4 separate regions of the Homo sapiens genome follow, and all the other regions are reported to be linked to region 4. The links are microRNA targets in miRTarBase. Many come from high-throughput screens and were not tested one by one. Region 4 holds a microRNA gene; each other region holds the end of a gene's coding sequence.
Evidence for each region. The annotated mature microRNA hsa-miR-769-5p reads UGAGACCUCUGGGUUCUGAGCU and lies in region 4 at 2,790-2,811, opposite strand. An mRNA with a match to its seed (bases 2 to 7 or 8) in the 3' UTR can be bound and repressed. Matches are read on the target gene's strand: a 7mer-m8 pairs with bases 2 to 8, a 7mer-A1 pairs with bases 2 to 7 and ends in A, and an 8mer does both.

Region 1 (7,793 bases), not on the chromosome of region 4:
CTTCTGCCTCAGTCTCCCAAGTAGCTGGGAGTACAGGCACACGCCACCACACCCAGCTAATTTTTGTATTTTTAGCAGAGACAGGGTTTCACCATGTTGGCCAGGCTAATCTCGAACTCCTGACCTCAAGTGATCCGCCCACCTCGGCCTCCCAAAGTGCTGGGATTAAAGGCGTGAGCCACCATGCCTGGCCCAAAGCTTTATATTTGAAAACCACTTTAGAATGCTGTGTAATTTCTTAAGAACCGCAGGCAGGCATTATGTCATTTGATTTTACTTATAGGAATTAAGGGTTCTACCTGTTAGAACCAGAAAGAGAAAGAGTGAGAAAAAGAGAGAGAATGAGTTTCTTTCAAAATAAAGTGAAAGCCCCAAAGTCAAAGAGGTCAAATCTTTCTCTGCCTGATTTCTCAGAAGTACTAAAGGATTAATGCAACTCAAGAGTGGCTCTAGCTTAATAAAGCAAGTCTTTGTTCTGAAGTATTTGTCTTCTCAGTCAGTATTTCCTGAGTTCTAGAAGCATATGTGTAAGCCATTGCCATAGGCACTATTTATGACTCAAAGATAAGACAAGCACCCTCTCACATTAAGAAGCCTATACACTCTGATAAAGTGATACGGTGCAAAGAACTGTGAGACAAGGATGAAAGTCATGGGAGCTGGCAGGATCTGTGAGACTCAGAGGTAGAGGCACCCAGTGGATGCTTTTGTGGGGACGGTAGCTTTTTTTTTTTTTTTTGAAGCAGAGTCTCTCTCTGTCACCCATGCTGGAGTGCAGTGGTGCGATGTCGATTCACTGCAACCTCTGCCTGCAGGGTTCAAGTGATTCTCCTGCCTCAACCTCCCAAGTTGCTGGGATTACAGACACCTGCCAACAAGCCTGGCTACTTTTTGTATTTTTAGTAGAGACAGGGTTTCACCATGTTGGCCAGGCTGGTCTCGAACTCCTGACCTCAAGTGATCCTCCCTCCTTGACCTCCCAAAGTGCTGAGATTACAGGCGTGATCCACCACGCCTGGCCAGGAAGGTAGCTTTTAACCTCACCAGATCCAGTCGGCTGGGTTGATCTTTTTCTTCATGGAATTGACTGGTTATCATGCAGGCATAGCTTCTTTATATAGATTAGGCTTCTGGAAATTCTTTGAAATTAGAACTGACTACTTTGGTTGTTGTAATTCTGTGTGCAAGAGATATAAACACATAGCTTGCTTTCCTTCATTCTCCTCACTGAGGGAGTCCAGGAATTTGCCTCTCTGTGTTTCACTGGGTTTTCTTTTTTCAGTCTCACACTTCTGATAAATCAAAATATGGCTGGGGTGGGGGGTGTTGGAGAGATGTTCATCAAAGGATACAAAATTTCAGTTAGATAAGAGGAATAAGTTCAAGAGACCTAAGAGAGTAGATTTTAAATGCTCTCACCATAAAAATGATAACTGTGAGGTTTTGTATATTTTAATTAGTTAGATTTAGCTATTTCACAATGTATACATATTTCAAAACAATGTTGTACATGACAAATACAGTTTGTCATGATAAATACATAGTTTATCATCTGTTAATTAAAAAGAAAATTTGTAGTGTGGCTGTGAACTTACTTTTTCCTTTTCCTTCAAAACAAAATCCAGTGGAGATCTCCGACTCGGCTCCCCCAGCGCCGCTGGTAAAAGAAGTCACCAAGAGGTTTTCCACCCCGGATGCTGCCCCCGTGTCAACAGAACCAGCCTGGCTGGCTTTGGCCAAAAGGAAAGCAAAGGCTTGGAGCGACTGTCCACAGATTATTAAGTAAAGAGTGACTCTCACCCATCCCTACTGCCAGTTATTGGCTCCTCTCTTGCCCTTTTTATTTATTTATTTTTTATATGGGGTAAAGAAATCAAGCTAGGGAAAAGAAGCATGTTTTATAGGCTCCAAAATAATGTTTAGAAACTGAACTGGTGGTGTTCATTGTAAAGAGTGGATTTGCACAACCCTAGGTCCTGGTGCCTCGAGCTCCTCCTAGTTCTCAAGAGAAAATTCCGTCCACAGGACCACATGAAGCAAAATCTCTAAGCTAAGAACTCGTGAGAGCCTGCCATGCCCATTTCATGGCCTTGCACACACACCCACCCACACACCATTCAGAACATGTACTTTTGCCAACCTTTGGTAATGGTTTTTTGATTCTATGCACTAATTTTCTTTGTCCAAAACATTTACTCTACCATATGTCTGGGAATGTTTATCCTTTCTACAGTAATGGTGAAAGGATCATATCTAGCTAAAAGCAAGAACACCCATTCTCCTGAATGCAGTGAGTAATTGGGAATCACAAGGAACATTCTGGCACCCAACTGTGCCCATCTTAGTTTTCATGAGTTTTCCCCACTCTGAAGCTGTAACCCAGAAGGCACATCCATTCACATTTTTACCGCACTGTGGATTCATAGTGTGGGGCCCTGTTATTCCAATACCCTCCTTAAGGACATGTGAAGCATTTGGCCCAGTTGGCTCCCAGGGAACATTTTAATTTAATGTAGTGAAGAAAGACAATTCTAGATCAGAGCTACAAGTTCACTTTCTGTCTCTGAGAATCTCCATCTAGGGCAGTAGTTCTTATGATGTGTAGGCTCCCTCCTAGGGCCTACTCAATCAGAGCCTGTGGGGACTGGGCCAGGAATATGTATTCTGGCAAAAACTCTTCAGGTCAGTTCTGATAGATCCCAAAGGTTAAGAACTGTGAGAAACACTGATCCTAATGCAATCTAATTTTTCAGACTTCGAAGGGGAGGCTCATTCACTCAAAAAGCAACAGTGAGACAGGAAAAATAATAAAACAACCCCCCAAGCCAGCCATTTATTACAAGAAGCAACAGGTTATTGACATTACATGTTTGAAAATTCCCTTTGGTCTTTAGGGAAAATAAACAGGAAGCCAAGATTTGGAGCCTTTGTAATAAGGACTTCCTGCAGAAAGTCTTTTCTTTACTATAATTGAGTAATTCATATTTAGAGTCACATGTCCAGTAGCATTTCTAATTTTGAGCATTCACCTTGCTACCTTTAAAAAACATCTGAGTTTTAAGTGGCCTTTTTATCATCATACACATGTGCATACAAAGAAGGGACTTGGCAGTTTAAAAGCCACATATATTCACTTTTATTGCCCTAAATTTACATGAAACAGACATACTGGCAAACTCACATATTGCTGGTGCTAACCTTATATTTCATAGTGTTGGCATATTCCCCTTTTCTTAGATTCTTACTCCGAAATATAGGTACACATCCTTTGCTCTGTGCAGAGGGAATTACATCCTTTTTCCTCTCCTACAAAAACATGCTTTATTAAGTATCCATCATTACTTTCCTTTATGCTCGCTCAATATGCAATGTGCTGTTATTCTACCATGTACCTTAAATAAAGGATGATGGCAAAGTTATTTACCATGTAGAAACCATTTTCTTTCTAGAAACAATAGCTCAGCCTCACTGTAGCAGCTGGCATGTGTGGTCAAGTGGATAGTTGTACTCTTGCAAGTTGGATTTAATATCATATATACTGGACCTTCAGACTGTTAAAAATCAATGTAACCTTTTTTTATTGCTATGGCAAGCAATTAGTATTTCACTGCACGTCTTCCATACTAATGTTCATTTCTAAATCTTATATGTAGGCATTTGTTAGTTCCAATGATTTCCTCACTAATATAACACTTTTTAATGGGAATCTTTCCACCTACAGCCCTGGAATGATAATGCTACAGTAATTCTTCTGAATTGACTTTTTCTTTCATCCTGTCAGCTTTGGACAATATCCCAATTATGGCAGGGAACAGGTGGGGAACTAAGATCAGTTACAAAAAGTTGTAGATGTGTCAACTTTGTATTGGCTGGGATATCACTGTGCCCAAACAAAACAGGCGAAATACCTCAGTTAAAATTTTTCCATCAAAGTCTTTAAAAGAAGAGTATACTGAAGAAAGGGCAGTCACAATACTTACTTCTAACAGCTTCTAAAGGGTACATGTTTAACATTTCATTTCAAAATCACCCCAAATTTGCACTAAATACCAATGAAGTGTTATTTTGCTTTAGTAGTCTTCTGAGCAACAAACTATGGGGAATTCTGTAAAAACATATAAAAAGTTCAAGACTTTTTTTTTAAATGAATGATCACTATGTTAAATGCAAACTTTTTTTTTTTTTTATTTAAACAAACATACACTTCTCCTGGCAAGGTTATAGATGATTAACCTCTGTTCATAGACTTATATATAAAACTAGAGGGTTTTTTGTTTACTTTTTTAATTTTTCAAGTGCAATTGTTTCTTACACAGACATTATTACTATTAAATTATCATTTAGCCAGTTATCTGCAAATATATAGTATGTATTGTCTCTTCTTGTGACGTTTAGTTTAATTGCTTATTTTAAAGCAGAAACATTAGTTACAAGTGTCTTACAATATTTTTACCAACAGTAAAGTAGAGACTTAATGAAAATACCTTAGTGTGATTTTAATATAATTTGCATATTTTAGTTGTATAAAGTTTTAATGTAAAATGTCCATTATTGAAGGGAAAAGATCTTTCAATAAAAAATACCCACGAGATCTTCGGCACTGATGGAATTTGATTTCGATGACCAACTGCAAAACAATCTCATTATATTTACATAACTTTTGTTGAACAAGAACAACTTTAAACTGTTTTATTACATTTTTTTCCTAGGTATTTTTAGAGAAAAATAATGAACGGGGGCAAATAAAATGTTTGTCTCAATCCTAAATTGGAATTGAATGGTCTGGGTCTCAGACAAAAGGATTGTACAGCCACCTCACAGCATGGGCTACTCACCAGCAGCAGCAGCAGAAGCAGCAGCTGAGAGCACGTGAGAATTGCAGCTTATGGCCACACATCAGACATACTGACTTAAAGGGCCAGACCCTGGTGAAATGAAAAGTGAGTTAGGCATGTGAGCACTTGCCTTGGCTTCCAGAAAACTAAGTAATCAAGAGAAATACTATTTTGATGCAGTATTTTAAAAAAATCAAAATTAATGCAAAAAAAAAAACCCATTGCAAGATGAGCAAAAGATCAAATTTTTTTTAGTATGTATAACTTGATTTAATTTTATTTATTTTTAAAATATTTTGCATATTTTTCTTAAACCTACGGCACTTAGTATTCCAAGGAGGTCTCCCATCTAAGTACTAACCAGGCTTGACCCTACTTAGCTTTTTTTTTTTTTAATTTAATTTTATTATTATTATACTTTAAGTTTTAGGGTACATGTGCACAGTGTGCAGGTTAGTTACATATGTATACATGTGCCATGCTGGTGTGCTGCACCCATTAACTCGTCATTTAGCATTAGGTATATCTCCTAATGCTATCCCTCCCCCCTCCCCCCACCCCACAACAGTCCCCAGAGTGTGATGTTCCCCTTCCTGTGTCCTTGTGTTCTCATTGTTCAATTCTCACCTATGAGTGAGAACATGCAGTGTTTGGTTTTTTGTCCTTCCGACAGTTTACTGAGAATGATGATTTCCAATTTCATCCGTGTCCCTACAAAGGACATGAACTCATCATTTTGTATGGCTGCATAGTATTCCATGGTGTATATGTGCCACATTTTCTTAATCTAGTCTATCATTGTTGGACATTTGGGTTGCTTCCAAGTCTTTACTATTGCGAATAGTGCCGCAATAAACATACGTGTGCATGTGTCTTTATAGCAGCATGATTTATAGGCCTTTGGGTATATACCCAGTAATGGGATGGCTGGGTCAAATGGTATTTCTAGTTCTAGATCCCTGAGGAATCGCCACACTGACTTCCACAATGGTTGAACTAGTTTACAGTCCCACCAACAGTGTAAAAGTGTTCCTATTTCTCCACATCCTCTCCAGCACCTGTTGTTTCCTGACTTTTTAATGATTGCCATTCTAACTCGTGTGAGATGGTATCTCATTGTGGTTTTGATTTGCATTTCTCTGATGGCCAGTGATGGTGAGCATTTTTTCATGTGTTTTTTGGCTGCATAAATGTCTTCTTTTGAGAGGTGTCTGTTCATGTCCTTTGCCCACTTTTTGATGAGGTTGTTTGTTTTTTTCTTGTAAATTTGTTTGAGTTCATTGTAGATTCTGGATATTAGCCCTTTGTCAGATAAGTAGGTTGTGAAAATTTTCTCCCATTTTGTAAGTTGCCTGTTCACTCTGATGGTAGTTTCTTTTGCTGTGCAGAAGCTCTTTAGTTTGATTAGATCCCATTTGTCAATTTTGGCTTTTGTTGCCATGGCTTTTGGTGTTTTAGACATGAAGTCCTTGCCCATGCCTATGTCCTGAATGGTAATGCCTAGGTTTTCTTCTAGGGTTTTTATGGTTTTAGGTCTAACGTTTAAGTCTTTAATCCATCTTGAATTAATTTTTGTATAAGGTGTAAGGAAGGGATCCAGTTTCAGCTTTCTACATATGGCTAGCCAGTCTTCCCAGCACCATTTATTAAATAGGGAATCCTTTCCCCATTGCTTGTTTTTCTCAGGTTTGTCAAAGATCAGATAGTTGTAGATATGTGGCATTATTTCTGAGGGCTCTGTTCTGTTCCATTGATCTATATCTCTGTTTTGGTACCAGTACCATGCTGCTTTGGTTACTGTAGCCTTGTAGTATAGTTTGAAGTCAGGTAGCGTGATGCCTCCAGCTTTGTTCTTTTGGCTTAGGATTGACTTGGTGATGCGGGCTCTTTTTTGGTTCCATATGAACTTTAAAGTAGTTTTTTCCAATTCTGTGAAGAAGTCATTGGTAGCTTGATGGGGATGGCATTGAATCTATAAATTACCTTGGGCAGTATGGCCATTTTCACGATATTGATTCTTCCTACCCATGAGCATGGAATGTTCTTCCATTTGTTTGTATCCTCTTTTATTTCATTGAGCAGTGGTTTGTAGTTCTCCTTGAAGAGGTCCTTCACCTCCCTTGTAAGTTGGATTCCTAGGTATTTTATTCTCTTTGAAGCAATTGTGAGTGGGAGTTCACTCATGATTTGGCTGTCTGTTATTGGTGTATAAGAATGCTTGTGATTTTTGTACATCGATTTTGTATCCTGAGACTTTGCTGAAGTTGCTTATCAGCTTAAGGAGATTTTGGGCTGAGACAATAGGGTTTTCTAGACATACAATCATGTCATCTGCAAACAGGGGCAATTTGACTTCCTCTTTTCCTAATTGAATACCCTTTATTTCCTTCTCCTGCCTAATTGCCCTGACCAGAACTTCCAACACTATGTTGAATAGGAGTGGTGAGAGAGGGCATCCCTGTCTTGTGCCAGTTTTCAAAGGGAATGCTTCCAGTTTTTGTCCATTCAGTATGATATTGGCTGTGGGTTTGTCATAGATAGCTCTTATTATTTTGAGATATGTCCCATCAATACCTAATTTATTGAGAGTTTTTAGCATGAAGGGTTGTTGAATTTTGTCAAAGGCCTTTTCTGCATCTATTGAGATAATCATGTGGTTTTTGTCTTTGGTTCTGTTTATATGCTGGATTATGTTTATTGATTTGCGTATATTGAACCAGCCTTGCATCCCAGGGATGAAGCCCACTTGTTCATGGTGGATAAGCTTGTTGATGTGCTGCTGGATTCAGTTTGCCAGTATTTTACTGAGGATTTTTGCATCAATGTTCATCAAGGATATTGGTCTAAAATTCTCTTTTTTGGTTGTGTCTCTGCCAGGCTTTGCTATCAGGATGATGCTGGCCTCATAAAATGAGTTAGGGAGGATTCCCTCTTTTTCTATTGATTAGAATAGTTTCA
Region 2 (7,309 bases), not on the chromosome of region 4:
GAAAACGAAGAGGCAGTAAGAAAAATTGCCAGCCAAGTGTCTGATGAGATCCTTGAAAGCTTGCCTCCAGAAGTCCTAAGCATCGAAGGAGCAGCCATTTGCTATTACAAAGATGATGTCTTCATTATAGGAGGCTGGAAAAACAGTGATGATATTGATAAACAGTATCGGAAAGAAGCCTACCGATATTGTGCGGAGAGGAAGAGGTGGATGCTTCTTCCTCCTATGCCACAACCTCGTTGTAGAGCCACTGCTTGTCACGTGAGGATCCCATACCGGTACTTGCATGGCACACAGAGATACCCTATGCCTCAAAACCTGATGTGGCAGAAGGACCGCATCAGACAGATGCAAGAGATACATCGTCACGCCCTGAACATGAGGCGAGTGCCAAGCTCTCAGATTGAATGCTAGGTTCTCTCAAGCGTGCCGATTAAAACTGTTACACCCGTTTCGTGAAGCTGAAGATACCCAGGCTGTTATTTAAAAAAGTATGTCGATAACTTATTTTCTACATGAACTGATTATTACCCCATATAAAGGAAATAGAGTTAAAAACTAAAGAATGGGAGACTCAGTTCAATACATGGTCATTTTGTTAGCTTGCAATTTTTGTCTTTGGTTTGTTTGTTTGTGCTAGCTAAATAAGATCTTATTAAGGACAAGTGGAAAAATCAGGTGTAGTTGCTTAGCTGTTTTCCTGCCAACGAGTTATGACTCCTTTGTCTTGAGGACTTACGTTTTGAACATGCTTTAAGCACCAATTTTATTTGCACATTTACTTTGATATTCTTTTTCATTTTTTATTAAATGATTGGTTTTGGCAAGATCTGACTTCTGCATTGAGCCCTCATCTGCAGGAGGCATGTGCAATAGTGAGACTGAAATTTGAATGAAAACACTCAATATTTCAGCAAGATAATTTGAGAATGTTTGCATTGATATTTTCTTATGTTTATCTAGAAATGCCAGTTTCCTTCCTAGAAGATGTGACTGATGAGAAATTTTTTACTGGCTCATGCATTTTTTGAATATTTTTCATTAGCAGCTGTTTATAGACTTTAAGCCTTCAATCTGAGGTGACGGTAGTTGGCAAAAGTATAGATCTTTAGCTAATTGACTAAATACAGAGCAAGTTACATGTGTGAACTTTGTTTCTCTAAGAAGAAAAGTATTAGTGTAGACTGGGAAATCAAAGGCATTTAAAATTTTTTCAACATTTTTTTCAGGAGTTGCAGGATTATTTGAGGATATGTTAATGAGTGTAAATAATGCCTATGACAATCGACACTCAATGCCTTCCATTTTAATTTTTGCTCTAATGCATATTATATAGAATCTTCATTATTCCTTTTCTCTTTTTTTTTTTTTTTTTGCTCATGTTGCCCAGGCTGGAGTGCAGTGGTGCAATCTCGGCTCACTGCAACCTCTGCCTGCCAGGTTCGAGTGATTCTCTTGCCTCAGCATCCCGAGTAGCTGGGATTACAGGTACCCACCATCACGCCTGGCTAATTTTTGTGCTTTTAGTAGAGACAGGGTTTCACCATGTTGACCAGGCTGGTCTTGAACTCCTGACCTCAGGTGATACGCCCGCCTCAGCCTCCCAAAGTGCTGGGATTACAGGCATGAGCCACCGTGCCCAGTCCATTATTCTTTTCTACAAGAAACTGTTTTTTTCCAAAATGGGAAGGAAGTCACAATTTAGAGAAATGTTGCTAAAGAGAAGCCTTATTATTTCTGATTGTTATATTTTATCCAGTTGCCCCACACTTTCAAACTTTGCCTGAGCCTAGGATACCAAATTTGGGTACATAATTTTGGCTTTTAAAGGTTTATGGGCTGGGCACGGTGGCTCATGACTGTAATCCCAACACTTTGGAGGAGGCTGAGGTGGGCAGATTTTGAGCCCAAGAGTTCAAGACCAGCCTGGGAAACATAGCAAGATCCTGTCTCTACAAAAAGTAGAAAAATTAGCTGAGTGTGGTAGCTGGCACGTGCCTGTAGTCCTTCCTACTTGAAGCCAAGGTGGGAGGATCACCAGAGCCTGGGAAGGTTGAGGCTGAAATGAGCTGTGATCATGCCACTCTACCTTGGGTGACAGAGAGACGGTGTCTCAAATAAAAATTAAAAAGATCACTGAAGCTATCTTTTATTTAGTTTTATACGTTATTCGAATTATCTTATGTCTCCTGAGCTTTATAAAAGTTAGCACTCAAATTGACTTTTTTTTTTTTTTGGGCCAGGGGATGGGGTCCCACTTTGTCACCCAGGTTGGAGTACAGTGGTATGATCTCGGCTCACTACAACCTCCACCTCCTGGATGCAAGCCATCCTGCCACCTCAGCATACGGAGTAGCTGGGACTATGGGCACGCGCCACCACGCCCAGCTAATTTTTTTTTTGTATTTTTGGTAGAGATGGGGTTTCTCCATGTTGCCGAGGCTGGTCTCCAACTCCTGGGCTCAGGAGATCCACCCGTATCAGCCTCCCAGGGTGCTAGGATTAGGTGTGAGCCACCACGCCCGGCCTCAAAATAACTTTTTTTTTTTTTTTTGAAACAGTCACGCTTTGTCGCCCTGGCTGGAGTGCAGTTGCGCAGTCTCAGCTCACTGCAACCTCCACCTCCCGGGTTCATGTGATTCTCCTGCCTCAGCCTGCTGAGTAGCTGGGATTGCAGGTGTGTACCACCACGCCCGGCTAATTTTTGTATTTTTAATAGAGATGGGGTTTCACCATGTTGGTTAGGCTGGTCTCGAACTCCTGACCTCGTGATCCGCCCACCTCAGCCTCTCAAAGCGCTGGGATTACAGGCATGAGCCACCATGCCCAGCCCTCAAATTTACTCTTAATGCTCAGTTAATATAAAGGATTCCTAACAGTTTACAATGTGGTTTTCTTGTTTTTGTTGTTGTTTTGGTTTTTTAAGATGTGAGGTCTCACCTTATTGGCCAGGCTGGTCTCAAGCTCCTTTCCTCAAGCAATCCTCCCACCTTGGCCTCCCAAAGAGCCACCTGTCCAATGATTTATCCTGTTTCTTAAGAACTGTCTTTACCTTCTTAGACATTTTGTCATACCATTCTAGAAGTCAAATTCCAAGTGCAGTGATTTTTTTTTTCCCTAGTCCATTATAGTTAATCTTCTTGTTAGTGATCAAATACCAAAAGAGAAAAGCACAACCAGAAATTTTGGCTATTTGCTGCAAGTTGTAGGTCTTGGGCTCTATACTAAGAACTTGAAATTTTTAAATTAGTATCCCTGCCTAGGTGAAAAGTTTTTAATAAATGTGTTGAAAATCAACTTTAAATCCATTTAATTTAGACTGGAGTGGGCGTGAGAAACTGCAAGTCTATTTCTACATATAAGGATATATTATTATATTGTCCCATCCCACCACTACCTTTTTCTCAATTTCTATTTCTTTGTAGTTATTTTAGTAAAAGCCATTTGGATTCTGAGAAGCACTAATTCTTAGCTGTGATAGGTCTATGCAAGTAAGACAGAATCATTAAATGAAGCTCACTAAATGAAGTTCTCATTTCTCTCCAACAGACTGTGCTAGCAAACTTCGTTTTCTTGATTGTATTTAAATAATTTAGTATCTCACTACGATAATAGTTTTTAACTGGAAGGGTGTGATGTGTTTTTTGTTTTTTGTTCTCAGAGTTGTCTTCTGAGATAATTATTACCAAGTCATTTGTGGGGTTGTGTTTTTTTCACATCATGTGACAGAAATTATAACTCATAAGATTTAGGCATAATCTGGTTTTAAAACCTTGATTGAAACTGTTGTTTTTTAACTTAGCAGGCAGCCTAGGCCATGGCTGAAAAGAAGGGGTAAGTCCTTCATTGCATGATGATGTGTGCAGGTTTTCCTGATTTTCTAATTTTTATTTTTGAATTCACATGTGTAATTTCACATCAATAACTTGTGTTTCTGAAATATCCTAACTAACTTGTTAATAAGGAAAGAAACCAGATTTGCTTAAATCTGTTCAAGGCTGACATTCTGAAATTCTAAACTGGAAATAACTTCCCAGAGTATTTGGAAAGGTTCTAAGTACAAGGATCAGGCCTAAAATAGCTCCTTGGGAAAGAAATTTCCTTTTTGATGAGAAAACTTAAAATATTGTTTTTGGTAATGTAAGCAGTTAAAAACATGACTTTAGAAAGACAGCTTAATGCGTATTCAAGCAAACCTTTGTTTTGTTGCTTTTGCTTTTGTTTGTAGAAGAGAGAGGAAGTTATTATACCAAAAAGTAATAGTATATGTAACTTTGAGTGAGGCTACTTATATCTTAGAATGGGTATCCTTGAACTATATCTACCCCACCATGGCTTAAAAAAATCAGTGGTATATATTGAGAATGTCAGTCATGAGCTTAGTGTTTAAGTAACACATCCCACTTACAGTTGTTTGCATGATTAGTCTTGTGTATCATGATGTTCAACTTTGCTTTTGCTGTGCCAGTTCAAAAATATCTTTTTTGCTAAAAACTCTTAAAATTCATGACATAAGTTTTGTTTTGATCACCCGGTTTTATATAGTATTTCTGGGACCAAAAAATTTAAATATACCTTTTTAATATAAAACAGAAGTTTGAAGCTGGAAAGATAGTGTTTATGGAAGATTTGTGTGCTTTTGTGTTTTTTAAACCCGTCAGGCTGCTGGTAAGGCAGTTTCTAGGGCTCACTTTTCCTCCTTACCTCTTGACTAGTGTAGCATGTGGTATGTTTAAAATATTTCATTTTCTGCTTTGTAATTCTAAAGTCAACACTATACTGTATGTAGACAGGAGAGCTGATTTGTATATTTTAGTTATTTGGTCTAATCAAGCATAACTAAAGGGACTTCTTTTTTGATACTTTTCTCAAATTAAGTTTAAATATAGTATACGGGCCACATTTCATGTCTTTGAAAGTGTTGTACATTACTGTAAACCAAGTACTCTGTCTACACCAGAGGGTGCTTTAACTGCAAAATATTTGAGAAACAATTCAGTCTCTCAAACATTTTGGCACAGTTCATCACTCCAGTTTGTTACTTTCTTGAGAATAGTCCATTTTTTGTTTTTGTTATTGTACCGTATGTTCTGGTCATTGGAAACAGAACAGCTCATAGTTGGGTGATGTAATATAATAACAGTAATATAACCTAGTAGTCATTTTGCTTCAAGTAATTTAATTAGATAGCAAAATCACTGCGGTTTGTTTATTACACTTGTAGGGCTTTTTATCTTACTCAGTGACCATCACTACGAATGTCTTACATTGAAGCACAGACTGCAGAGCACTTGTTAACTTAGTCCTCCTGCATAATGCACTCGTGAAAAGTAGTGCTTGCTAGGTGTTTGAAGATTTTATGATCCGTGTGCTTGGGCTCGTTGAGTTATTTGTAAAATAAACATTTAGTTTGAGTTGATGCAGTAAGTTTTTTGGACTAGTAGTATCCAGGTCCCTACTCTACTGAAAATATAATCTTCACTATCTCCCCTTAACTCAGAGGAGATGTAGCATTTAGAACACCTTGAGACATGACATTGTAAAATAGCTTGTTTTATGTTCCTGAAGCTATCTTGTTCTCTGTTAAAGCTACTAATTGTCTCAGTGTAAGTTTTAAATAAACATATTTCTTTAAAGCTGGTTTGTACTGTGTGACTTTTTTTTCTTATTTATGCACTGTCGGATATAATTGCTTTCTTCCATCCCTCCTACTCCCTCATTCATCCAGCCATTGGCTCTCTTAAGTTGAACATTTTCCAGTACTCTTCAAAGTTTAAACACTGCATTTTTTTAAAAAAAGAATTAATTCTTATTGCTTAGACTTTTTATTAGCTAAATGAAGAGGCTCATACAGGTAGGGTACTTGTCGAAGCAGAATATTTTACTTCATCTCGCAGTGCTAATCCTGGGAAGTTGTCCCGTCTAGCTGCATATTCCTCAACATTGGCCAGCCCTGGTACTACACAGCAGCTCAGAGCACTGCGGTATATACTCATGTCATGAGCATCATACCACTCATCGGTCTTTTCATCATAGCACTCAACATTAAAGGTGGTGGTAAAACCATTAAAGCCACCCACCACAAACAAGAGGTCATCCACCACCTCGATGCCAAAATTGCTACGAGGATTAAACATAGTGGGGATTGTGCGCCAAGTGTTAGCCACAGGGCTGTAGGCTTCGGCACTCCTAAGTCGATTAGCTCCATCAAAGCCACCTACCTGTGGATAGCAAAAGAAACACGGTTGACTGCTAACCATTGATTCTGTTCACTGAGGAAGCCCTTGTTGGGGGTACCAGTGATCTCATAACTCCCTCTTCCATTATCTTCCATGAAAAAAAGCTTTTCAGCCGGGTGCAGTGGCTCACGCCTGTAATCCCAGCACTCTGGGAGGCCGAGGCGGGTGGATCACAAAGTCAGGAGATCGAGACCATCTGGGCTAACACAGTGAAACCCTGTCTCTACTAAAAATACAAAAAATTAGCTGGGCATGGTGGCGGGTGCCGGTAGTCCCAGCTGCTCGGGAGGCTGAGGCAGGAGAATGGCATGAACCCGGGAGGCAGAGCTTGCAGTGAGCCGAGATCCTGCCACTGCAGTACAGCCTGGGCAACAGAGCGAGACTCCATCTCAAAAAAAAAAAAAGCTTTTCAAATACTTACCAATAGTAGCATAAACCCATTTACTAATACAAAATCTAGGGGTAATGTGTTTTTTGTGTGTGTGTGGTACTAGATAAACTTACCGCATATACATGTTCTCCATAAGCAATCACGCCTATTCCACTCCTCCTGCTTCTCATGGGTGCTATGACTGTCCACTGATTACTTTCAGTGTTATACACTTCTGCTGTGAACAGGCACTCGTTTCCATTAAACCCACCACATATGTAGACCTGTGTGAAGAGTTCCAAGATTATTAAAATTCCCACTCTAGGGAGTAGAAAGAAAGGATATGTGTGTGGTGGTAGTGGGCACTTAATTCCAGTCTGTACAGTCTGAATTTCTTTTTTTTGTATGTGCATGCATTGCTTTTTATTTATTTTTTAGAGACAGAGTCTCGCTCTGTCACCCAGGCTGGAGTCCATTTGCACCATCTCTGCTCACTCCGCCTCCTGGGTTCTAACAATTCTCCTGCCTCAGCATCTGGAGTAGCTGGGACTACAGGCGCACACTGCCACGCTCCGCTAATTTTTTGTATTTTAGTAGAGACGAGGTTTCACCGTGTTGTCCAGGCTGGTCTCGAACTCCTGAGTTAAGGCAATCCGCCCCTCTCAGCCTCCCAAAGTGCTAGGATTACAGGCATGATACA
Region 3 (7,793 bases), not on the chromosome of region 4:
TACAGGCCCCCGGGCCCAGCCTGGAGGTCTGTTTTAAATGAGATAGGGAACACTTCTCTGAGAAAGTAACGTTTGAGCTTCCTGGGTTAACATAGGCATCATACTGTCAAAGTAATTAACATGTACTGCCTTCTCCCTACTGATCAATCCCTCTACCCTAGGAGTAGGAGTAGTAGAAATAAGAGCTTATGTTTCTTGAGTACTGACTATGTGCCAGGCATTGTATAAGCATTTACATGTATTACATTTATTCCTCATAACAACCATATAAAGTAGGTTCTTGTTTTCTCCATTTTACAAGTTAGAAACTAAGATACAGAGGATTTAAGGTACTTGCCCAAGATCAAAGGGTGGAGCCTAAATTTGAAGGACGGAGAATAGCTTCTAGCCAAAGATGGCTAGCAGTAAAACATTTTGGCCTCCTTTCCCTCTGTTGCTTAGCCTCTAAGCCATTGGAAGTGGTGGTGGTTCCCAGTCTACTGGCTGCAGGGTTAGTGCAAAGGGACTGACTGCAGATGCTTCTGTGAACCAAGCATTGCATGTGGCACGCAGGGCCCTTTAAATGTCCATTATATTGTTGTTATTAGATTAAATAGGCCAGGCACGGTGGCTCACGCCTATAGTCCCATCTTTTTGGGAGGCTGAGGTGGGTGGATCACCTGAGGTCAGGAGTTCGAGACCAGCCTAGCCAACATGGCAAAACCCTGTCTCTACTAAAAAAAATACAAAAATCAGCCAGGCATGGTGGTGCATGCCTGTAATCCCAGCTACTCAGGAGGCTGAGACAGGAGAATTGCTTGAACCCAGGAGGCAGAGGTTGCAGTGAGCGGAGATTGTGTCACTGCACTCCAGAGCAAGACTCTGTCTCAAAAAAAAAAAAAAAAAAAGATTAAATAAAATGTCTTCCATATTGTGGACTACCATTTTTTTTTAAATGCAGATGGCTCCTGTTGAGGTAATTAAAATGTAATTTCGTTTGACAATGAAACCAAATTTGTCTACATATATCTTCTCCATCATTGGATACTAAGTGTATAGATACTCTCATATGGAGAAACATGGGCATGTTTTAATGTTAAAAAGAGCCTCTTAAACTGAAAAAAGCTCCAGCTTGGTGTACTTGTTGAAATTACAGATTATGAAACGACTTTTAGATCTTCTGAATCAGAATCTCTAAAAAAGGGCCTGGGGATTTATTTTTATTGATTTATTTTTATTTTTTGAGAAAAGGCGTCACTATATTGCTCAGGCTGATCTCAAAATCCTAGACTCAAGCAGTGCTCCCACTTCAGCCTCTGAGCGCATCTGTCTTTTTAACAAGCTCTCACCCCAAGGGATTTTGTTATGCAGCCAGATTGGGTCACCAGTACTCTGGGCTCCCCTAAATCACTTGACTTTGTGGTTCCAAGATGATCTCCACCTGCGGGTTTCTGAGAGCGACGAGGGCAGCTGAACGCTAGACCTGTGTCAATCCCATCTCCCTGATGGTGGCTGCAGGGTGGAGCTGAGCCATGCCCCAGATCAGTGGGAAACGTTTTGTTATCAGCAATACCTGCCATGGATTCTGGGGTTTAGTGTCACTACGTGTGTTCTCTTTGGCCTGAGGAAGGATCTGTCCATTGACTTTGTTTTTCATGTGTTTTTCCTTTCTAGTTAAAAACTTCTTCAGAGTCAGTTTCAAAAATGGATCCCAAAGTCAGACCCACTCGCTACAAGCCAATGACACTTTCAACAAACAGCAGTGGCTTAACTGTATTCGTCAAGCCAAAGAAACAGTTTTGTGTGCTGCCGGGCAAGCTGGGGTGCTTGACTCCGAGGGATCGTTCCTAAATCCCACCACCGGGAGCAGAGAGCTACAGGGAGAAACAAAACTTGAGCAGATGGACCAATCGGACAGTGAGTCAGACTGTAGTATGGACACGAGTGAGGTCAGCCTCGACTGTGAGCGCATGGAACAGACAGACTCTTCCTGTGGAAACAGCAGGCACGGTGAAAGTAACGTCTGACAGAAGCATGTGCACTTCGGGAAGCAGGCCTGCATCTTACCTGTACAGTATTTGCATTCCACAGATGGAACGGTTTGGAGAAGCACTTTTTCATACTTTTGTGAAAGTATACATGTTGGCCCAGTCTCTCGTATCTGTACCTTTGTCCCTAGTACTGTAACTGCCAATCTGTCTGTGTAAGCTGGAATCTGTGGCAACTATTACCCTGTGTTGTATTTCCCAAGTGTCTGGATGGATGGAGAGGTACTCAAACAAGTTACTTTCAGTTGTCCTGCTGGATTTTAAAAAAATAGAAAAAGAATCTCAAAACTACTGTTTTACATAGATTGTTTGAAGAGTCCTTCCTCTTGTGCTTCTGTACCACTTTCCCAGCTCTTAGATGTGGTAGCTAAAGGCACGGAATTTAGACGGCCTTGTAAATAGGGCATGAGGAACTCATCTGTGTATTGGGATGGTATTAGAGAGAGAATCAGGAAAGACCAACTCATGAAGTGAACTTGGTTTGATCTTACTCAACTAGAAAGCTTGAAAACATCCCTGGGGATTCTGAAGGCTTAATTTTGCAAAGGAGGATGCATTGTCTGAACTTTGCAACTTCATCCAGTGCAAGTTTGATGCAAGAATGTATTAGGACATAAAATAGAGGCTGACCTTAAAAGGGCCAGGACAGAAGCGGCTGCCAGCTCTGAATCTTTAACTGAAATGCACATGGCACCAGGAGGTGTCTCTCATAGTTGGTTGCTAGCCTAAAACATCAGAATAGAACCCAAAGGGCTTAGGAAGGCCTGCCAGGATAACAAGAAGGCCCTGTATTCATTGTGTTTCATCTGCCTAGGCCTACTCATTATTTTAGAGAATGAATGAAGCAACAAGGAAGAGAGACCATGACTCTATCGATGACACTGTTTATAGAAACACAGGAGAGGAAGAATTTGGAATGAAAAGCACTTCGTCAGAACCTTCTGTGGGAGCCATTGAGAGAAAAGCATGGTCCAGTGCCTTCTGAGAAAGGCCAGAGCTTTGGGCTTTCCTGCTCTGCTTTTGGGTCGTCAATTTGCCATCTCTGGTTCTGTGCTATAATCAGAATTGTAATTATGTTCTCCAGAGGCCAATTTCATTAACTCTGATTAATTAGAATCAGCTAGCCAGATTAGTAACCTCTTTGTCCAGCCTTGATTTACAGTGCAGGGTAAAGTGCAGACCTTAAAAACAGCTAAGTACCTAGAAGAGCTCCCTGCAAGTGTAAATATTAAGGATGACCTGTGCAAAATTATACCCACACCAGCACTAGTGGTAATTATTCTAAATTATTGCCAAAAAGTTTTTTTTAATCTGTCTTTCAAGTTTACAGAAAAGAAAGCAGTAAATGCATTGATGTCATTTTATTATGTACATATATCATGTGCATTCAAGCTGTGTGACAAGATATATCAATATAAAAACAAGGTATATACTTTATTATTTTTTGAAAACAAGGATATTGTGATCAATTTTACCCTGTAAAACATATTTCTGTATTTATAGGTCTTAAACATGATGAATTTTTTCTATTACAAGTTTATTTAAAACTGCTTTCTCAAGTCGTTATTGATACAGCAAGTGAACCTGCTGCAGACAGAAGCAGAGGAAAGCCAAGAACAGCCTTTATTGGTGAAGAAAAGAATGAATGATTCTTTGTAGGCGCCATCAGCCACTTTTAGAAGCCATCAGCCAGTGTGTTGGGAAAAGAGGTTTGTCAAGTGTTGGCCTATGGGAAGGTGGTCAATGAATGTTTTGATGAAATGAATGTTTTTGTATAATGGCCTTAAACTTTTCTGGAAGTATTTCAAATAAATTACATTATTAAGTCATCCTCCATGTGTACAGTGTTTGTCCTACAAACAAAATACAGGTTTCAGCTGTGTTCCTGGGGAGGTTCTTTCTGAAATTTTTGTTTGTGGTTCCTGAATACAAACTTTAAAATAGGATGCAGATTGATACAAATGCTTTTATTTGATCTATCAAAACTTTCACAGAACTCATTTTTTTTTTCTTTCTTTCTTTTGAAACAGGATCTCACTCTGTCACCCAGGCTGGAGTGTGGTGGTGTGATCATAGCTCACTGCAGCCTCAAATTCCTGGGCTTATGCAATCCTCCTGCCTCAGCCTCCCAAGTAACTGGGATTACAGGTACACACCACCACATCTGGCTAATTTTTAAATTTTTTGTAAAGATTGAAGTTTCACTATGCTGCCTAGGCTGGTCCTGAACTCCTGGCCTCAAGTGATCCTTCTGCCACAACCTCCTAAAGTGTTGGGATTACAGGCGTAAGCCTCTGAGTCTGTCCAAGAACTCATAATTCTAAAATCTGTTTTCTCAAGCATTCTCTATTCATTCACTTATTTATGTGTTCACTTTTAATAACTCTATCTGGAATCCATACTATGTATAAAGTCAAGTGGTAAGTCATAGTTGTTATAGAAAAGAAATGTTGAATCTCACTGCTAATATAGGTAACTGTTGAGGAACTTGAGGCTAAATAAAAGAAGGCAAATTTCACTTTGAAATTCTTACTGGAATTTCAGTCTACTTTAATTAAAATGATTAGTACTCTTTCTAGTCTGAGCACAGTGGCTATACCTCTAATCCTAGCAGTTTGGGAGGCCAAGGCAGGTGAATTACTTGAGCCCAGGAGTTCAAGACCAGCCTAGGCAACATGGCAAAACCTCATCTCTACAAAAGCACAAAAATTAGCCAGGCTTGATGGCATGTGCCTATAGTCCCAGCTACTCAGGAGGCTGAGTCGGGAGGATCCCTTGAGCCTAGGAGGCAGAGGTTGCAGTGAGCTGTGATCACACCATTGCACTCCAGCCTGGGTGACAGAGTGAGAACCTATCTCAAAAAAGAAAAAAAAGATTAGTACTCTGTCCCACAATGAGTGAGGTTTTTTAGATGAAAAGGCTAAACATTTTTAAGCTGTTAGTAGCCAATTCTCAATAGCACATTGGCCCAATAAGGCTGGTAGTTAGTCTTATCTTTACAATAAGCTCTCACCATTTTCTTTTTTTTCTTTTTCTTTTTTTTTTTTTTTTTTTTTTGAGACAGTCTCGCTCTGTCACCCAGGCTGGAGTGCAGTGGTGCGATCTCAGCTCACTGCAAGCTCCACCTCCTGGGTTCATGCCATCCTTCTGCCTCAGCCTCCCAGGTAGCTGGGACTACAGGCGCACGCTGCCACGCCCGGCTAATTTTTTGTATTTTTAGTAGAGACGGGGTTTCACCGTGTTAGCCAGGATGGTCTCGATCTCCTGACCTTGTGATCTGCCTGCCTCGGCCTCCCAAAGTGCTGGGATTACAGGCCTGAGCCACCACGCCCGGCCAGCTCTCACCATTTTCTTTAACATACTGTTAATTCCCAAATTTGGCAAGATATTCACATAAATAAATATAAGTCCAAATTTTTTCCCAAATGCAAAGTCGCTTCTCCTAATTTTTTTCTTCCTCCTCCTCCTCATCTTTTTTGTCCGTCCTCTTTTCTCACTGCTGCTTTGGCTATTCCCTCTGTTTTTCACTCCTATAATTGTACTGACTGTCAATGCTAAAGGATGTATCTTACAGTATATTAGAAGATGTTTGTACTGACATTTTGTGGGTTAGTACAAATGAGTGAGGGCTAAATGGTTTTTCTTCAGTCAATTTTCAAGATGTTATTTCACATACAACTAGATGTAATCCTTGCAGTCTAAATGAAAACTCATAAGCAATGAACAGAGCCAGAACTAGCAATTTTCTGTAAAATTAGAGCATGGTTTCAGCTTCTGGGTTGTGGTCACCGCCACTGACTGCTTTAGTTTCCATTCCCAGCACAGTCTGCGGCAGCTAAGAATGCACAACTCTTCATAACCACAGCCCTGTTTCAACAAAGACTGTGTGGCTGCAGGAAACTGCAACCCACCATCTTGGTGAAGAGCCTGTTCAACTTTCCATTTACATTCTGTCCATGTCCGTTTTTTACTAATTCTCCCAAAGCCTGAGGACTCTCAAAGATTTGGCAAAGAAACTGTCTGGCCAATCAGTTTCACTCACCTGGTTCCCCTTGGCATTGAGGAGAGAAGACACTGAATACCCCCCCTTATTGATGCAGCTGATTCAATTAATTCACACTAGCTTGTTTATTGACAGAATTCTAGAACTACACTATTGGAAGGGAAGAGGGTTACCCAAGCCCAAACCTACCAGTAAAAATCTGACAATCATCAAAATTTAAAACCTTGTCCGCATGAGCACACAGTGAGAAAAGGTGACCGTATTCACTGTACCTGAAGGGTATTGAGGGAAACAAGTTGGAAAAAAAAATGCTCATGACATCATATCTCCTTTCTCCAGGCTTGGTTCATATATCAGTCAGCTGCACAGACCTACCTAGTCAAAGCAGTTTTCAGTTGACGTGAGGGAATAGCAAGGAATTAGAAGTCATGCACTGTATCTTTAAGAGCTAATCACTTAGCCTAGGAAACTGGACATGCATTCCAAAGCTTGTCCACATGCAAACATACCTAGGTATTAATGAACTGTGCTCTCTCATCTGTGAAAGGTTTGAAAATGACATCCTACAAGTGTTTTATTCTCTGTTGCCAGGGACACTGGACCCTTCAAGCCCATTTAAATGTGAGACTGTATGTGAAATCACTTTTTAAAAAGATACTAAGAGCTAGTAGTTTTCATTGTTATTTAATAATCACTTTTAAATTTGTACATGTTGCCCAGGCATGGTGCCTTATGCCTGTAATCCCAGCACTTTGGGAGGCCGAAGAGGGCAGATCACTTGAGACCAGGAGTTGAAGATCAGTCTGGCCAACATGGTGAAACCCCGTCTCTATTAAAAATATGAAAAATTAGCTGGGCATGGTGGCAGGCGCCTGTAATCCCAGATACTCAGGAGGCTGAGGCACGAGAATCACTTGAACTTGGGAGGTGGAGGTTGCAGTGAGCACAGATTGCACCACTGCATTCCAGCCTGGGTAACACAGTGAGACTCTGTCTCAAAAAATAAAAAAAAATAAACCGTACATGTGAAATTTCTCAAAAGTGTGGCCTTGGCCTGGGTCTTTTTCATTCGTTGTACTATATACCTGGAGAGACTTTTCAATCCAGATAATTTGGAATTTTTTCTTGTATTTTTTTTTCTTACATATTTTCATTCCCACAATTTTCTATTTTCTCTTTCAGGAATTCCAGAAAGAGAGATGAACCTTCTGGATTTTATGCCTTAACTTCTGGATTGATTTTCAAATAGTCTTAATCTCTTTATTCTTACTTTTTATTTATTTATATTTTGTTCAACTCTCAAGGAGATTTCCTCACCTTTGTCTTCAGATCCTTCTATTAATTTGAGGAGAGGGTTGCCATCAGTTTTTTTTTCTACTATAAGTTTTTCTATCATTCTTTCTATACTTAAAGCACCCTTATTTTTATTTAATGAAGGCAGTGTCTTCTCTGAACTCTCAGAAGATGTCACAGTTCAGTTGAATTTTCCTTCATCTTTCATTGTTTATCTGGGAATAATAATGGTAATTAATAGGATTTGGGGGAGGATTCAATGTAGTAATACATCCAAAGTACTTAGAATGGGCCAGGCATGGTGGCTCATGCCTGTAATCCCACCTGTAATCCCAGCACTTTGGGAGGCTGAGGCGGGCGGATCACGAAGTCAAGAGATCGAGACCATCCTGGCTGACATGGTGAGACTCCATTTCTACTTAAAATACAAAAAATTAGCTGGGTGTGGTGGCGTGCCCATAGTCCCAGCT
Region 4 (7,793 bases):
TGTGGACCACAGTGAGGACTGTAGCTTTTACTCCGAGATGGGAGCCATGGGAGGCTTCCCCCCGCAGAGCAGGGACCAGGGCTAGTGTAGGTACAAGAGACTCCCTCTGGCTGCTGTGGGGAGAACAGACTGTAAGGGGTGCCGGCTGAAGCAGGCTGAAGCAGGTCCGGGGCCACGCCTACCAGCTACCTCCTCCTTAGAATGGGCTGCAGTCCAGCCTGACGGTTTCCACAGGGAGGGAACTTTCAATCCTGCAGGCTCTCAGACCCAGGTAAGCATCAGAATCTCCTGCAGAGCTTATTGGAGGAACATGCAGGTCCCCAGAGACCACTTCAATAGACCCCACCCAGGGGACACATGTTCTCAGGACCTCCTAAGGCTGTGTCTCACACACACACACACACAAAACCCACCCAGAGAAGTCTAGAAGTGTCCAAAGGTATTCCCAGCCCTTCCAGTTCAAGATTTTATCAAAGACTCCAACTTCAACATTTTGTTTCCAAGACTCAGGCGCTCTGATCCTAAGTGTTCCCATGAGGTCACGAAGGCCCGAGCCTCGGGTCCACATCACCACATACAGAAGCAGCCGCTGTCTGGCCCTCAGCTTTTAGGATTCCGAATCTGGTTCTAACGTTCTGAATCCCCTTTCCATGTCACGTCACCTTCTCTCTCTGAGCCTCGTTTCTTCACCTGTAAATGGGGCTTCTGACTGTACCCGCTTGGCGATGGTGGCTGAGGTTTCAATGAGATGCATTCATGCAACAAATGACCAGGGAGAACCAACCACCCCCGACCCCAGCACCATCATGCCAGGCTCCGGGAATATGGCAGGGCCATAACCAGCCAGTCCCAGCAGCCAGCATCACCAGCAGGGCCATAACCAGCCAGTCCCAGCAGCCAGCATCACTGGGGCCAGATTCTGGGAGCTGGCTTCCTAAGCAGCAGATTCGGGACTCAAGATTCGGAAGTTCCGACATTCTGTGCGTCATTAATGACACTGTGAGCGCGGGGGCTGAGTTGGCACATACTGCAGCTCCAAGGCACTGATCTTCTAGTTCATTCCCATTTGCCAAGTCAGACACGCTCAATCAGATGTGCTGAATGAATCAGCCTTAAGGATCTGCTGCCAGGCTTGGGAACCTCAAAGAGGCAGGTGCTGGGGCTCCAGGGTCGGTATCTGGTTACGACCCCAACTTTGAGTCTGTGATCCTGTCCCCCAGTGGACCCCGAGGGCAGGAAGCAAGCTGGGGCAAAGGCAGAGTTCTGAGAGGCAGGGGGCTCTGAGTAGCTTGTACAAATTATGTCGCTTTCTGAGTCTCTGCTCTCTCTGCTTAAGATGAGGATGATAAGAGTCCCTGCCTTGGCTGGGCACGGTGACTCATGCTTGTAATCCCAGCACTTTGGGAGGCCAAAGGCGGGCAGATCACCTGAGGTCGGGAGTTCGAGACCAGCCTGGCCAACATGGTGAAACCCCATCTCTACTAATAATACAAAAATTAGCCGGGTGTGGTGGCTCATGCTTGTAATCCCAGGTACTCAGGAGGCTGAGGCACGAGAATCACTTGAACCCAGGAGGCAGAGGTTGCGGTGAGCTGAGATCACGCCACTGCACTCCAGCCTGAGCAACAAGAGTGAAACCCCGTCTTAAAAAAAAAAAAAAAAAAAAGTCTCTGCCTCAGAGGGCTGTCCTGCAAGGATTCAGTAAAACAGGACTTCCACAAATCCTCTAGGGAGGCAGGAGAGAGCAACGCACAAGATCACATGGGTGGGGACCATGGAGGCCTGGTTAAAAACCCCAGCTGTGCCCCAGACAGGCTGTGTGACCCCGGGGCAGGTGATTCTACCGCTCTGATTCTGTCTATATAAAACGGGGGTGATAGTGACTCACAGGGTTGCTGTGAGGATGGAAAAAGGTGTATGCAGAGCTGTGCTTGGCACATGGCAGGGGCCCAATAAATGACCACAGTCATTGTTACTATCGTGGGAAATTAACGGGTGAGAAGGATGCTGGGGAAGTTGTGTGCACCACGGCAGTAACGGAGGCAGGGTGAGTGGAGGAAGGAGGAGGAGTCCTCCTCGGGAAACCCTCCCTCACTCATCAAGCCCCCCCACCTCCCCATGCAGCTTCCTGATTGGAGAAGACGGGCTCGTATACGAGGGCCGTGGCTGGAACTTCACGGGTGCCCACTCAGGTCACTTATGGAACCCCATGTCCATTGGCATCAGCTTCATGGGCAACTACATGGGTGAGTGACTGTCCAGCCAGTTGGGATGGGGGCTGACACGGGGCCCTACGCTATCACTTCCCCTTCGGGGAAGCCCCTGCCTGACTCCTACCTCTGCCTCCTCCAGATCGGGTGCCCACACCCCAGGCCATCCGGGCAGCCCAGGGTCTACTGGCCTGCGGTGTGGCTCAGGGAGCCCTGAGGTCCAACTATGTGCTCAAAGGACACCGGGATGTGCAGCGTACACTCTCTCCAGGCAACCAGCTCTACCACCTCATCCAGAATTGGCCACACTACCGCTCCCCCTGAGGCCCTGCTGATCCGCACCCCATTCCTCCCCTCCCATGGCCAAAAACCCCACTGTCTCCTTCTCCAATAAAGATGTAGCTCAAAATGTGTTCCTCAGCAGGTCCCACCACACACCTCCCCTCCTTCTCTCCCTCCCACAAGACCAAAGCCCTCCCACCCCTTCCCCTCCCAGCACTCTCCTCACTGGTGCTTGGAACCCAGAGGCCCCGGCCCTGAACCAAGACCCCGGAGATCCCAGCTCGAGAGCAACATCACAGCTCAGAACCCAGAGGTCTCAGGTCAGAGCCCAGGAATCAGCACCAAGGCGGCCGGGATGTCACCAACAGTGGGTCCTGGGGGTCCTCCTGGGCAGTGAACCACGCTGCAAGACACCTCCTTCCCACCACACAGCCAAAGGCATCCTGCGCAGAAACTTTGCTTGGACTCCTTTAGGGACGGGCTGCTCACTACTCCTCCCAGGTCTGCCCTTGCACTGTTTAGAGAGTGTACAAGCTTTTCCTAGGCCTGAGTCCCAATCTGCCTCCGAGGCACAGACACACAGGTCCCAATTATACCCCCCAATTTCTCTTCCTCCACATTTCTCCCCACTCCACCCTCACCCTTTAGTCATAAGCTGAGGGGTCCCCAGGGCAAATATGTTTATTTACAAAATGCACACATCCTCCCTCCCAGCATGCACTGCCTGGGGAGAGGGCAGGGTCAGGGCCTCACACACCTGAGACCCCAGGGGCAGCAGGAGGGACGGGGCCAGGGCAGGGACTGGGCAGGGCTGGAGGCCACCCTGGCCCCACCCCCCACACCATACCCAGCAAGTGGGTGGGGGATGGAGGGGTAGTACCCCTTCTCCACGTTATGACCGCATGTCCAGTCGGTTCATGTACTCCTGCAAGGCCTTCAGGCGTGCGTCTATTTCGGCCATGTCAGCCGCCTGGTGCTCCGAGCTGTACTCTGTGAGAGCAGGTGTGGGTATGGGGGCTGTGAGGGGCCTGAAGCCCCAGGGAGTTCCTGGGCCCAATATACCACTGCCCGCACTACCATTCCAACGGGTCCTGGGGCTGGGAGAGGGGATGTGGAGTCCCAGGCTCACCTTTGATGGGGACCCAGCCCCCGGAGTTGGCCAGAGATTTCTGATGGTGGCTGCGTTCCACGGGGGGAGACTTCTGGTGATGGGGAAGGTAGGAAAGGGGGTCACCCACCGTCCCTCTATTTCTGTCCCCCTAAATCCCACTGGAAATCCTGAGCCTAAGGACCTTGGGGAAAAATAAGGCCTGACACCTACTGGCCATTCATTATCTGCAAAATAACCTCCTAATGTCCTCACAGAGCCCTCACCTCACATGTGAGGTGATGCCATTACCAACCCTGGTTAACTGATAAACAAAAACTAAGGTACAGAGAGGCTAAAGAACTGCCTTGAACCATACAGCTGGGAAGAGGAGGAGACAGGTTTCAAGACCTGACAGTCAGAAGCCAAAGCCCTAAAGAGCATCACGTGCCCCTCATTATTCCTTCTCCAATCTAATGCTCTCAAAACGTGCTGTTCCCAGGCCAGGTGCGCTGGCCCAGCCTGTAACTCCAGCGCTGTAGGAGGCTGAGGATGGCTTGAGGCCAGGAGTTCCAGACCAGCCTGGGCAACATAAAGAGACAATACCACCCCCTTATCCTGTCTCAACCCCACCCTGCCCCCCCAAAAAAGCCTAGTCCCAGCTACTCCATAGGCCGAGGTGGGAGGGTCTCTTGAGTCCAGGAGTTGAAAGCTGCCGTGAGCTACAATTGCCCCACTGCACCCCAGCCTGAAAGAGCGAGACGCACTCTTAAAAAAGCCCTATTGCCAAAGGCATTCAGAGTCGCCTCTGCACCTGATCCCCAGGAAGGAATCACAGGAAATGGGGGCAGCTGTGTTCCAGTGGTTTATGTTGCCCCTTCTACTCACCATATTGGACCCACTCCAGGGCGTTGGGCTGGGAGGCTTCCCACGGCGGCGGTGACCCCTGAGAAAAAGGAGTAACCAAGGACCAGTGGTGGGGAGGCTCTGGTACTTCCCACCTCCCCGACCTTTGTGGTTTCAAGGCCCCCAGGCTCCATCACCCAATTTCCCTGCAAAAGACTGTTTCTAGTCTCCCCAGAAACCCTTTGGAGGCGATCCTTTTCCCAAGTTCAAGTTTTACCCTCTGGAGAGCGACTCAGAGAAATCCTCCAAATCGCTGCAGGAGCTGGCAGACGAGCAGCGGCTGCGGAAACTGTCCACTAGAGGGAGACGGAGGGCGTGACCGCTGGCCCTCGCTGGCCCCGCCCAGTGCTTCCCAGGCCCTCCCAGCCCGCCCGCCCTGCCCAGTGCCTCCCAGCCCGCCCAGCCCCGCCCAGTCCCGCCTAGCCCGGCAGCCCCCAGCTCCAGGCCAGTTACCTGAGGAGCTGCGGTTTCGGGAGCGGTTAGGGGCGTCCCCTCGGCCAGTCAAGGCAGCAGGGGGCTGGGTCTGGCGAGACCAGGAGACGGACGGACCGTCCCCGCTTCCCCCACTGCCTAAGCGGTTCCGCTGCTGCTGCCTGGGAAAAAAGAAAGGAGACGCCGGTCTGTACGCCCAACTCCTGCAGGCAAGGGGGTCACTGCGCCCCTAAAGGTCACAGCCACGCCAGCGAAAGCCTGAGGTGACAGGCCTACGAGCGGAAAGCACGCAGAAACACAGACGAGGAGGTAGGACGGACGGAAGGGAGAGCAGGCGGGGTATCCGGCGAGAAGCGAGCAGGTGGCAGGGGATGGAGACTGATGGTGGCGTGGAGAGATGAGAGCCCGGGAGCGGGCACGGGCCAGGGACAGGGGCAGGTGAGGGAGGAAGGGGCACTGACTTCATCTGGATCTCTCTCTGCTTCCTTTCCTTGGCTTTCACAAAGGCCGTGGGGTCGAAGCGGAGCGCGCGACCACCTAGGACGGCGTGGGAGAGGAGGCGGCTAGGTCCGGAGACGGGCCTTGGCAGCGCCAGTGCGTCCCCTCCCTACCGCAGGGCAGGGGCACAGACCTGTGGGCGAGGGCGAGGGGCGCGCAGGGCGGCCCCGACCCCGGCTCCCGCGGCCGCTCTCCCGGGATGAGGAGCGCGCGGCGCCGCGGCCTCGCGACGCGGAGCGCTCCCGGGACGATGAGGCCCGGTCCTCCCGCGTCGGGGGCGGCTGCACCGGCGGAGTCCGCCTCCTGAGACCACAGAGGCAGCTGTCAGCTTCCCGCCCGCCCCGACAAACTCAATCGCGAGACTCCTCCCCGACCGCACCTTCTCCGAACCCTCAGGCCTACCCCATCAACTCCTAGACGTGCACTCCTGGGCCCATGACCCTCTCGATATCTTCCCCCCCAGACCTCACCCAATTGGACCCCTAAAACACCCCTCTGTCATTCCCCTACATCCTTTCAACACACCGCCTTCAACAGACCCTTCTTTCCGGAGTCTTCCACAACTCCCCGGAAACTCTTTCCAATTTTCCACCACCCACCCCATAAATGCCAGCGGACCTCACCCTGATCCCACCTGCTGCGCCGCACCCTTTCGCACCAGGAGACCCTAGGGCACGATCCCTTTCCCAGTCCCTCCTGAACGCCGCCCCAAGCCTGCGCATCTCCGCACAGCCCGGGTCCACCTCCTAACCACTGCACCCAAATCCTGTCTGGACTCCAGACGGGGTCCGCTAAGCCCCGCCTCCCCTTCAGCCCCGCCCCCTCCACCCTACCTGGCCCCGCCCCGCCCCCTTAGGCTCCGCCTCATCAGCCTCCACACCCTCAGGGCCCGCCCATCCGCCCAGGCGCCTGGCAGGCCTCGCTCTCACCCCCTCTTGTACAATGCCAGCTCGCTGGTCAGCGTCTTCAGCCGGGCGCGCAGGCTCCGCTCCGATGCCTTCGCCTCCTCGAGCTGCCGGGAGGGGAGAGGGGCGCGGAGGTCCAGGCTGAGGCCGAGGTCCGCGCCTCGCTGGCCGCCCCGGGCCCCCGCTGCTCACCTCCTTGGCCAGACGGCGGCAGTCCTGGCCGCGACGGCCGGCCACCCTGTGCCCGAGGCCGCGCTCCTGCCGCAGCTCCAGCTCCAGCCCGCGCACCAGCCCGCGCAGCGCCTCGGCCTCCTGGCGTGCCGCGCGCCCGGCCAGCGCCTCCTCGCGCGATCGGCCCAGCTGCGCCTCCAGCTCCCGCTTCTCGGACGCCAGGCGCGACACCCTGGGGAAGACGCGGAGAGAGCGCTGGAGAGAGAGGCATGGCCCCATTCCCACTACTCCATGGGGGTGGGACGCCTCATCATTTCACCTCCCCGGAAGGGGGTACACGGCTCATCAGTCTCAACTGACCCCATGGGGAGGGGCAGGGTCCTATCATATCCCCTGCGACGTGTGAGGAGGGATGTGGTCACATCACCCCCATGCACCTCACGAAGAGGACATGACCCCACCACGCACAGGACACACACACACACTCCTCCCCCTGGTGCGGGTGAAGGAGTGGGAACACAGCCATGTGAGTTCCAATTCTAAACGATTTCATCAATCTGTACACACCCTGAAAGCCTAGCACTGCCTCCCTCCTCCTCCCACCTCGCCAGGCCAGTCTCCCAGTCACGAAATCCTCTACAATACAAATTTGATCAGGTAACTACCATGCTCAAAACCCTTCCTTGAGAAAATGTATACACAAGGCTATTCATTGCAGCACAATCTGTAATAGCAAAAGAGTGGAAATAACCAAAATGTATGTTAAAAGAGAACTAATTGAATTTCTAATACATCTACTCAATTGAGTCCCACAAAACTATAAAGAGGAAAGTAGAGTATCTCTGTGTCCTGTCACCGAGTGACTGCTGTGACACAGTGCGGTGCAGACAGTATGTTCAGAATGTCCCTTTTCATAAAAGAAATGAGAATTATAAATTATATGTTTATATTTTCAAAATTACAGAATAAACCAAAATCTATGGGGGAAAAAAGGATTATTTATGGGGAAGGGGAAAATGAACAGAAATTGGACTTCTCTGGCTGGACAAAGTGGCTCATGCCTGTAATCTCAGCACTTTGGGAGGCCGAGGCAGGTGGATCACATCTCAAAAAAATAAGAAAACCAGAAGTAAAAATAATTTTTTAAAAAATGTAAGAAATTGGACCTCTCTGAATGTACCCTCTTTTTCAGTTTTGGAACTATAAAAATATTTTATACAAATTAATTAATTAAATTTTAACAAATGCCATCACAAAAATTTTAAAAGAAACTGGCCCAAACAGACCTAACTCTATATCAAA

Region 1: miRTarBase lists CRACD as a target of hsa-miR-769-5p. The part of its 3' UTR that is shown has no 7-base or 8-base seed match.
Region 2: miRTarBase lists KLHL11 as a target of hsa-miR-769-5p. Seed matches in the 3' UTR shown: 8mer at 2,932-2,939 and 7mer-A1 at 2,956-2,962.
Region 3: miRTarBase lists ARHGEF3 as a target of hsa-miR-769-5p. The part of its 3' UTR that is shown has no 7-base or 8-base seed match.

The regions. Positions count from the first base shown.
Region 1 is chr4:56,326,019-56,333,811 of GRCh38, forward strand. CRACD (capping protein inhibiting regulator of actin dynamics) reads left to right here. Exons shown (of 11, transcript NM_001393381.1): 11 at 1,626-4,591. The coding sequence ends at 1,786. It also overlaps the pseudogene RNA5SP162. Among named protein-coding and RNA genes, the nearest start is that of AASDH, 58 kb to the right of the region's middle.
Region 2 is chr17:41,846,845-41,854,153 of GRCh38, reverse strand. It overlaps KLHL11 (kelch like family member 11), which reads left to right. Exons shown (of 2, transcript NM_018143.3): 2 at 1-5,636. The coding sequence ends at 414. KLHL10 (kelch like family member 10) reads right to left here. Exons shown (of 5, transcript NM_152467.5): 4 at 6,744-6,893; 5 at 5,770-6,221. The coding sequence ends at 5,847. Among named protein-coding and RNA genes, the nearest start is that of KLHL10, 13 kb to the right of the region's middle.
Region 3 is chr3:56,723,483-56,731,275 of GRCh38, reverse strand. It overlaps ARHGEF3 (Rho guanine nucleotide exchange factor 3), which reads left to right. Exons shown (of 10, transcript NM_019555.3): 10 at 1,654-3,856. The coding sequence ends at 2,006. Among named protein-coding and RNA genes, the nearest start is that of TASOR, 44 kb to the right of the region's middle.
Region 4 is chr19:46,013,979-46,021,771 of GRCh38, reverse strand. MIR769 (microRNA 769) reads right to left here and starts at 2,840; the gene lies at 2,723-2,840. It overlaps CCDC61 (coiled-coil domain containing 61), which reads right to left. Exons shown (of 14, transcript NM_001267723.2): 6 at 6,513-6,723; 7 at 6,345-6,427; 8 at 5,549-5,718; 9 at 5,379-5,454; 10 at 4,939-5,078; 11 at 4,703-4,781; 12 at 4,468-4,525; 13 at 3,622-3,694; 14 at 3,156-3,482. The coding sequence ends at 3,385. PGLYRP1 (peptidoglycan recognition protein 1) reads left to right here. Exons shown (of 3, transcript NM_005091.3): 2 at 2,125-2,246; 3 at 2,353-2,619. The coding sequence ends at 2,534. RefSeq lists an enhancer at 1-111 and silencers at 4,850-4,909, 5,640-5,719, 6,187-6,481.